Homo sapiens: one gene and its partner. The protein of the gene in region 1 purifies or fractionates together with the protein of each later gene. This does not show direct contact. Each region holds a gene or a part of one and is shown on either strand. Other genes may lie near its edges.

Region 1 (3,646 bases):
CAGGGGCATCTGAAGGGGAGGCTAGGGTACCACCGCCTACCTGTGGGCCCCAAGCACTCGGAAGATCCTTGTTTCATCTGTGATCTCCTGGGTCACCTGGGAAGACAGGTGGGAAGCACTGAGGCCACTCCAGTAGGTCCTTTCCAAAGAGGTAGGGACCACAAGGCAGGGGACAGCAAGGTCCCTGGGCCCCACTCACCTCATTGGTATCCAGGCTTCGGCCTTGCATCCCATGGCTCCAGAAGGCCAGCACACTGTCCTGCAGGCACACTATGGGGGCCAGGCCACCATCAGCCCTGCACCCATCTTGGCACCCCCTCAGCCACGCCTGAGCCTGGGTCTGGGCCACAGGGGTCCTCACTGACCTCAGGTGACCAGGATGGCTCAGGAGAGGGGCTAGGGGATCTGCCTCCTCATCCTACCGCCAGCCCCAGGCCCCTGAGCAACAACGTGCTCCAGGCCAGGGAAAGGCCTGCACCCCACCTCTGGCTCACTCACCCACAGTCTCGATGGGGAAATCAAAGGTCAGCTCAGGTGCCAGTGTGGCCGTGGGCTCGCCCTGCATGTTGACAATCCTCACACAGCCTGCACAGGGAAGGAATTGGTGAGTGGGGACGGGGAGGCTCCCTTCTGGGAAGGCAGACCCACGTGGTCGCCTTACCTCCATAGTCCCCTGCCCTAAGCCCTGCCCCCAGGGCACTCACGTTCAAAGCTGACTAGGATTGTGTCCCTGTCCACCTGGATCACCTGCTGGGCCGAGCCTGGGATCCCCTCTGCAGGCAGAGAAGAGAGACATGGCCTGGCTGAGCCACCAGTCCCCCAACCCCAAGAGGATACGGGGGCCAGGCTACAGACAGCCCTTGGCCATGAGGGCACGTCAGCCTCACAACAGCCCTGTGGGGCTGGGAAACCTCATCTCCCTCCAGGGCTGGGAACTGAGGCTCTGAGAGGATGAGTGACCCGTCCTAGGGCTCATGGGGAGTGGAGGAGGAGTCACGGGGAGCCACGGGAGGGCTCCAGGTTTAAGGGGACCAGGCCTCGTGACCCAGTCACTGTGTGACCTGGTACAAATCACTTTACCTCTCGGAGCCTCTGTTTCCTCATAACACAGACAAGATGGCACTGCCTTGAGAGGCTATCATGAGGATCAGGAATAAAATCCTGGGCTGGGCGCAGTGGCTCACACCTGTAATCCCAGCACTGTGGGAGGCCGAAGCGGGTGGATCACCTGAGATCAGGTGTTGGAGACCAGCCTGGCCAACATGGCGAAACCCCATTTCTACTAATAATACAAAACGTAGCCGGACGTGGTGGCACATGCTTGTAATCCCAGCTACTCGGGAGGCTGAGGCAAGAGAATAGCTTGAACCCACGAGGCAGAGGTTGCAGTGAGCCGAGATCGTGCCATTGCACTCCAGCCTGGGCAACAGAGCAAGACTCTGTCTCAAAAAATAAAAAAATAAATAAAGAATAAAATCCTGTGTGTGAGACCCCTGGCTCAGGGCCTGGCACCAGGTGCCTTAACTACGTGCGCCCTCCTTTCTCCCTTACCCATCACTGCTCATTATCACCCCAAGCTGCCACAACACCTGGAGTCCTGCTTCCTGGCTGAGAATGGGGCCTCTAGGCCCTGCCTTGCCAGATCTGCCTCTTCCCTGCAGCCCGGAGCAATGTTGACCAGTTTTTGTTTTTGTTTTTGTTTTTTGTTTTGAGATAGGGTCTCACTCTGTCACCCAGGCTGGAGTGCAGTGGCGCGAACATGGCTCACAACTGCCTCTGTCTCCCAGGCTCAAGTGATCCTCCCACCTCAGCCCAAGTAGCTGGGACTACACACGTGCATCAACATGCCCAGCTAATTTTTTGTAGAGTCAGGGTCTCGCCATGTTGTCCAGGCTGGTCTCAAACTCATGAGCTCAAGCCCCTCTCTCTCCTTGGCCTCCCAAAATGCTGGGATTACAGGCGTGAGCCACTGTGCCCGGCCTGGCCAGGATTTTCTTAGCTGCCAAGCCCTTCCGTCTAATGAACCCTTTTATGGAAGCCCAGGTGAAGCTTGTTGAAGGGAGGCTGTGGGCCCCAGACCCCACATGGCAGCCCTCAAGGTCTCTGTGGAGCCACTGGCTGTGGGGAGCCTAGTTTGGGAGCCTTGGCCCTCCCTGCCTCCCTCCCTCGGTCTCTCATGCACACACACCCACCCCCAGCAGCCTGGCCCTTCTGCTCACCAGGTGGGATGAGGATGTCGGGCGTCAGGCCAGCCTCCAGGGGCAGGACATGGAACAGGACGCGGCAGCCGGGCCCCTCAGGCCCCTCGGCCCCAACACACACCTGCGGCAGCTCCTTCCCATCCAGCACCAGCGGCTCCAGCATCCCAGCTGGGCTGGGCAGAGGGCTGGAGAAGTTCTAGGGGGCAGCAGGGATGCTCAGGTCTCCATTTCTCCCCCCAGAGCTCTGAGGGTGCCCTGGGCCTCCCCCCACCGCCCCTCACCTTCAGCAGCAGAAACTTCTGCAGCGGCTCATACCACTGCAGCAGGAGCAGGCTGGTGGGCAGGGCGGCCAGCAGGAAGGTGGCACCCGTGTAGGGGTTCCGCACTGGCAGGGGAGCAGGCAGTGGGCACCGGGCTGGGCCTGCGCTGCCCCCCACCAGGCCCCGCCCCACCCCGCCCAGCCCATTTCTTACCCACACGACACTGCAAGCAGCCTTTGGTGTCAGGAATCTTGGTGGACAGAGCAAAGCGCCTGTAGGGGTGATAACCAGGGCCTGTGTCTGGGATGCCATCCATGGGCAAGGCCCCTGCAGAGCCCTATGAGGTGGGCACTATCAGCTTCCCTCTTTACAAGTAAGGGACTGAGACTCAGAGACACAGAGTAACTTGCCCCAAGAACAGCTGGGAAAGGTGGAGGATCTGAAGCCAGTCTCCCAGCCCTGAAGCCAGGAGGGAGTGTCTCCATCCAGGCCAGGGGTTTGGGTCTCAGGATTGCTTCTAGCTCTGTGTGACTCCAGGCAAGCCACTTAATCTCTCCATGCCTCAGTTTCGTCATCTGTAGATTGGGGATAATGGCGGGCCCCACCCCAGAGAGTCACAGTGAAGGCTTCATGAGTTAATACAGGGGAGGTGCTCTCGGCAGTGCTGGGAATCGTGTGTGCTCACAGAGGGCCAGCTCCTATCATCCCATATTAGGACTTTCCACCTATTTTGAGTCACTGAAAGTCCTTGTCAGGTAAAGGCAGGGTATAAAGAAAGAAATGATGCCAGGTGCAACGGCTCACGCCTGTAATCCCAGCACTCTGGGAGGTCGAGGTAGGCAGATCACCCGAGGTCGGGAGTTCGAGACCAGCCTGACCAACATAGAGAAACCCTGTCTCTACTAAAAATACAAAATTAGCCAGGCGTGGTGGCGCGTGCCTGTAATCCCAGCTACTTGGGAGGCTGAGGCAGGAGAATTGCTTGAACCCAGGAGGCGGAGGTTGCAGTGAGCCGAGATTGTGCCATCGGACTCCAGCCCGGGCAATGAGAGTGAAACTCGGTCTCAAAAAAAAAGAAAAAGAAAAAAGGAATGAAGAAATGAGAGCATGGAGGGGCTGGGGAGGATGCAGGCTCCAGCCCCACCAGGTTGCACAGACTGCACACGGCCCATTTCACAGATGGGA
Region 2 (3,646 bases), on another chromosome or scaffold:
CCAAAGCTGTGTTCTGCCTGGTCTCCCTTCAGTGGAGAAATCGAACCTTGTTCTCTACTGTTTTCTTCCTGAGTCCCCATGGAAAGGCTCTCGGCAGAGTGGGCAGCAGAAGTGATGTGAGGCTCCTAAGGTTTGAGGTCGCAGGCCGTGCTTGCCATGTGAAATAGAGACTTGGCCCTAGGATGAGCTGGATTTAACGCCCCTGAGTGTCCGGCAGGCTTCCTGCAAATACCTCTGTACATCAGTTTGCGAAGGAGGCATGTATTTGGGTTTTTTTTTTAGTGTTTTGCAAAAGCTATTTTAAAGGGAAGTCAAAGGATAAAAATGAGCCTGGGCTTAGCAAGTGAGCGGCTGTGGGCAGGTTTGGGGTTGCCCGCATTGCCACTTGCCGATGAGGGAGGGGAGTGTGGGGAGACTCTGTTCGTGTGGAGGTCACAGGTGACATAAGGGCTAACTGAATGATTTTCTTTCGTTTCGTGCTGTCATTGGACAGCCTTGGAAAGCTAGGTGCAGACTTACACACTAATTCTTTTTTCCTTTCTCTGTCTCTGCAGAAACTTGAAGGGTCAAAGTGCAAAGGGCAGCTTTTGATTTTTGGGGCAACCAACTGGGACTTGATTGGTCGAAAAGAAGTGCCTAAACAGCAAGGTATGAGAATGGTGCCTCAAAAACCCATTGAGTGCTTCTTAAGTGCTAGGTTCTGTTGACCACCTGCCTGGTAGGTATTCCCTTCATTTACAAATGCATTTTCACAGAGGCCAAGTGACTTGCCTGAGGCCACACAGCCACTGTAGTGATGAGCTGGATTTGAACCCTAATCTTAGTCTTTTAAAGGCACAATTTTGAAGTGACTCACTAATTCCGTTAAGATTAATCAGGAAAATACAAGTAGTATCCTCAAATGAACATTGCCACCTTTTCCATCTTCCCTCTCACCTCACTTGTTTTCATTAAAATGAAGAGACCAGGTCTGTGAGATGGTGTCAGAATGTCCTAGACATTTGTCAAATGTCAGGTGTCAAAATTTCAGGCATTGCAGAAGAGTCCACGTTTCTTTGCAAGCTGCCAAATTGTTGCAGGAACTGGTTTGACAGAACAGTCTGGAGCGGGGGAAAGCAGAGAGGTCCTTAAGAAGTAATGTTTTGTCCCCAGTTACCTTTGGAAAACTGGTGTCTTAAGGGAAAAGGCCCATCCAGGAGAAGGAAGGCTGGCATGTAGCCAACTTTTATGGCTTCTTGATTTCATCTGGAAAGACTCCCAAAGTGCTTTCCAGCATTGCTTTGCCCCATGAACAAATATTTGCACGCTGGCTCGTCTTGGCACCTTAAAACAGGGGCGTTGGAAATCACCTTGTTCCATGAAAACACCTGGGGGCCAGCTGAATTAGAAATGGGTTTAAGTTGCAGGTAGCAGCAGCGCGTTGTTTGGAAAATGCCCAGCCTTCAGGCCCAAGCCAGAGGGGGCCACGTCCACATGGTGGCTTTTGTCCCAGGGAAGCACCTCCTGGTCTACAGTAACGTAAGCCCAGGTGCTGATGGCGCCTTGTTGCCAGTCCTGTGCCCGTGTTGCATCATTTCTCAAAGCCGTTCTTCAACTGAGCAGCCCAGTTGACATTGAAGATACAGAAGCCCAGGGAAGGGCAGTAAATACCAAAGGAAGCGAGTGGCAGGGCCAGGGTTGGAGTCCCACTCTCTAGTTAACTCTGTTGCCTCCCGCGCATGTATGTTGCTGTAGATCTGGTGAAAACCAGCAGCCTGGATGTCTTGGTTTTTGCAAGATAGCACCACAGCAAGCCACACAGTAGCTCTGTGATTGGGACCAGACCCCAGGGATCCGGAGGCCGTGGGAATTGACTTCTCAGTCTGACCGCAGAGCCTGGGACTGCTGCAGGGCGTTTAATTTGACTTGCTCCCCCTCCCCCACCCCTGCCCGGTCCCTCCAGTCCCTCCAGCCCTTCCTTGGGAGGCCGGAAGAAACCCAACCCGGCTCCTCAGGAGCCAGTGGCATCCTGGGCACTGCAGGGAAAGATGCTTTGGTAAGTCCAGGAGCATCTGACCACCTGAGACTCCCCTTGGCCAAGCAAGTTCAAGTGTGGCACCGCACCCTTGCCTGGCGTCCCGTGGCCTCCTGTGTTGCGGCACAGGGTCGTGATGATACTCGTCAATCATGCCATCATTTTGTCTTCATGGCAAAGAGACCTTGGGTTTCTCTTTATCCCTTCCGAGTTTTGTTTAATACAGTTCCTGAATCTTAATTTAGGTGCCACCTCCTTGAGTTTTTCTTAAGTTTTAATATAGACCATGAGGCTTTTATTTTTGGTTTGCTCTTTCCCCAGGAAATTGTTGATGTTCCTCTTCCTCCTTTCAGGGGAGGTGTCTGCAGGTGTGCTGCTTCAGGTGCCATGCGGGATCGGCTGGCCCCTGCCCGCCTGCGGCCAGGAGTCTTGCCCACTTGCCCCCACACCTGAATGAGGGAGCATGTGGTGCCCTCTGCTGAGGGCGGAGGGTGGGGCTGGAACGTACTTCACAGATACTTTCTAGGCAGCCAGGCGCTTGATAGAGACATTGTAGCCTTTTTATCAGTTCCTACATTGGATCAGTCTTACACACTCGATTTGGCAGTGGCTAGCATTTCAGGATAATCACCACAATCCTGGAAATACTCTTGAGCATCTCAATTTCAAAAATTAAGATTGCTGGGCATGGTGGCTCACGCCTGTAATCCCAGCAGTTTGGAAGGCTGAGTCGAGTGGATCACTTGAGCTCAGGAGTTAAAGACCAGCCTGGCCAATATGGTGAAACCCTCTCTACTAAATATACAAAAATTAGCTGGGTGTGATGGCACACGCCTGTAATCCCAGTTACTCGTGAGGCTGAGGCAGGAGAATCAATTGAACCTGGGAGGCAGAGGTTGCAGTGAACCGAGATTGTGCCACTGCTCTCCAGCCTGGGCAACAGTGAAACTGTCTCAAAAAAAAAAAAAAAAAAAAAAAAAGAAAAGTAAGAAATTGGCCCTGCCCCATCCTCTAATAGGGTGTGAAGGGGGGTTTGTGAGGAAGATGCTGTGGTTTTCTTTCCCATTGAGTGCTCGCTGCGTGCCAGGCATTTGTGAGGGTCTAGGCTGGAGGGAGCCTACAGCTTTAGCCCTGGGTGGCTTCTCATGGAGTGGGAGGGCTGGGGGGCTCAGGAAGAGAGCTGTGGTGGGCTGAGCAGGGCTGAGCAGAGCTGGGGCAGGGGAGCCCTGGGGGAAGGAGATTTCTCAGTGGATGTTGCCCTGGAGGGCTTCCCCAAGGAGGCGAACTGGTGCTTGACTTGAGCTTTCAGGAAGAAGTAGGAGGTGGGAAGGACATTCTAGGGGAAGCGAATATATGGGTGGGTGTCAGGGGAGTCATGAAGTGGCTGTCACACTGGACGGGTGAGAAGGGAGCAGGAGGTGGGGTGATACTGTGTGAGCAGTGCCCCTCCTCAAGGGGCCTGATGGAGCTGCTGGGAACATGAAGACAGGACACTCGGGTCACCCCTCAGAAAGAGCCTTCTGGCCCAGGGTGAAGGCCGGAGATGGAGGGCAGGAGAGCCTGGGAAAGGAGGGGCAGGCGGCAGGGAGTGAGGAGGAGGGGTAGGTTACTGTCAGGGTGAGCGGGGTTTCC

What was found. The genes of interacting proteins can lie anywhere in the genome.
Region 2: the proteins of MAP4K2 (region 1) and RCC2 purify together in Homo sapiens (affinity purification with mass spectrometry, with the first as the bait; one study listed by BioGRID). This does not show direct contact.

The regions. Positions count from the first base shown.
Region 1 is NC_000011.10:64,789,690-64,793,335, forward strand, and holds part of MAP4K2 (mitogen-activated protein kinase kinase kinase kinase 2), read right to left. Parts: intron 2,734-3,646; coding exon 2,675-2,733; intron 2,587-2,674; coding exon 2,483-2,586; intron 2,398-2,482; coding exon 2,220-2,397; intron 774-2,219; coding exon 705-773; intron 586-704; coding exon 499-585; intron 271-498; coding exon 200-270; intron 97-199; coding exon 41-96; intron 1-40. UniProt on the Homo sapiens protein: Serine/threonine-protein kinase which acts as an essential component of the MAP kinase signal transduction pathway.
Region 2 is NC_000001.11:17,426,108-17,429,753, reverse strand, and holds part of RCC2 (protein RCC2), read left to right. Parts: intron 1-554; coding exon 555-648; intron 649-3,646. UniProt on the Homo sapiens protein: Multifunctional protein that may affect its functions by regulating the activity of small GTPases, such as RAC1 and RALA. Required for normal progress through the cell cycle, both during interphase and during mitosis.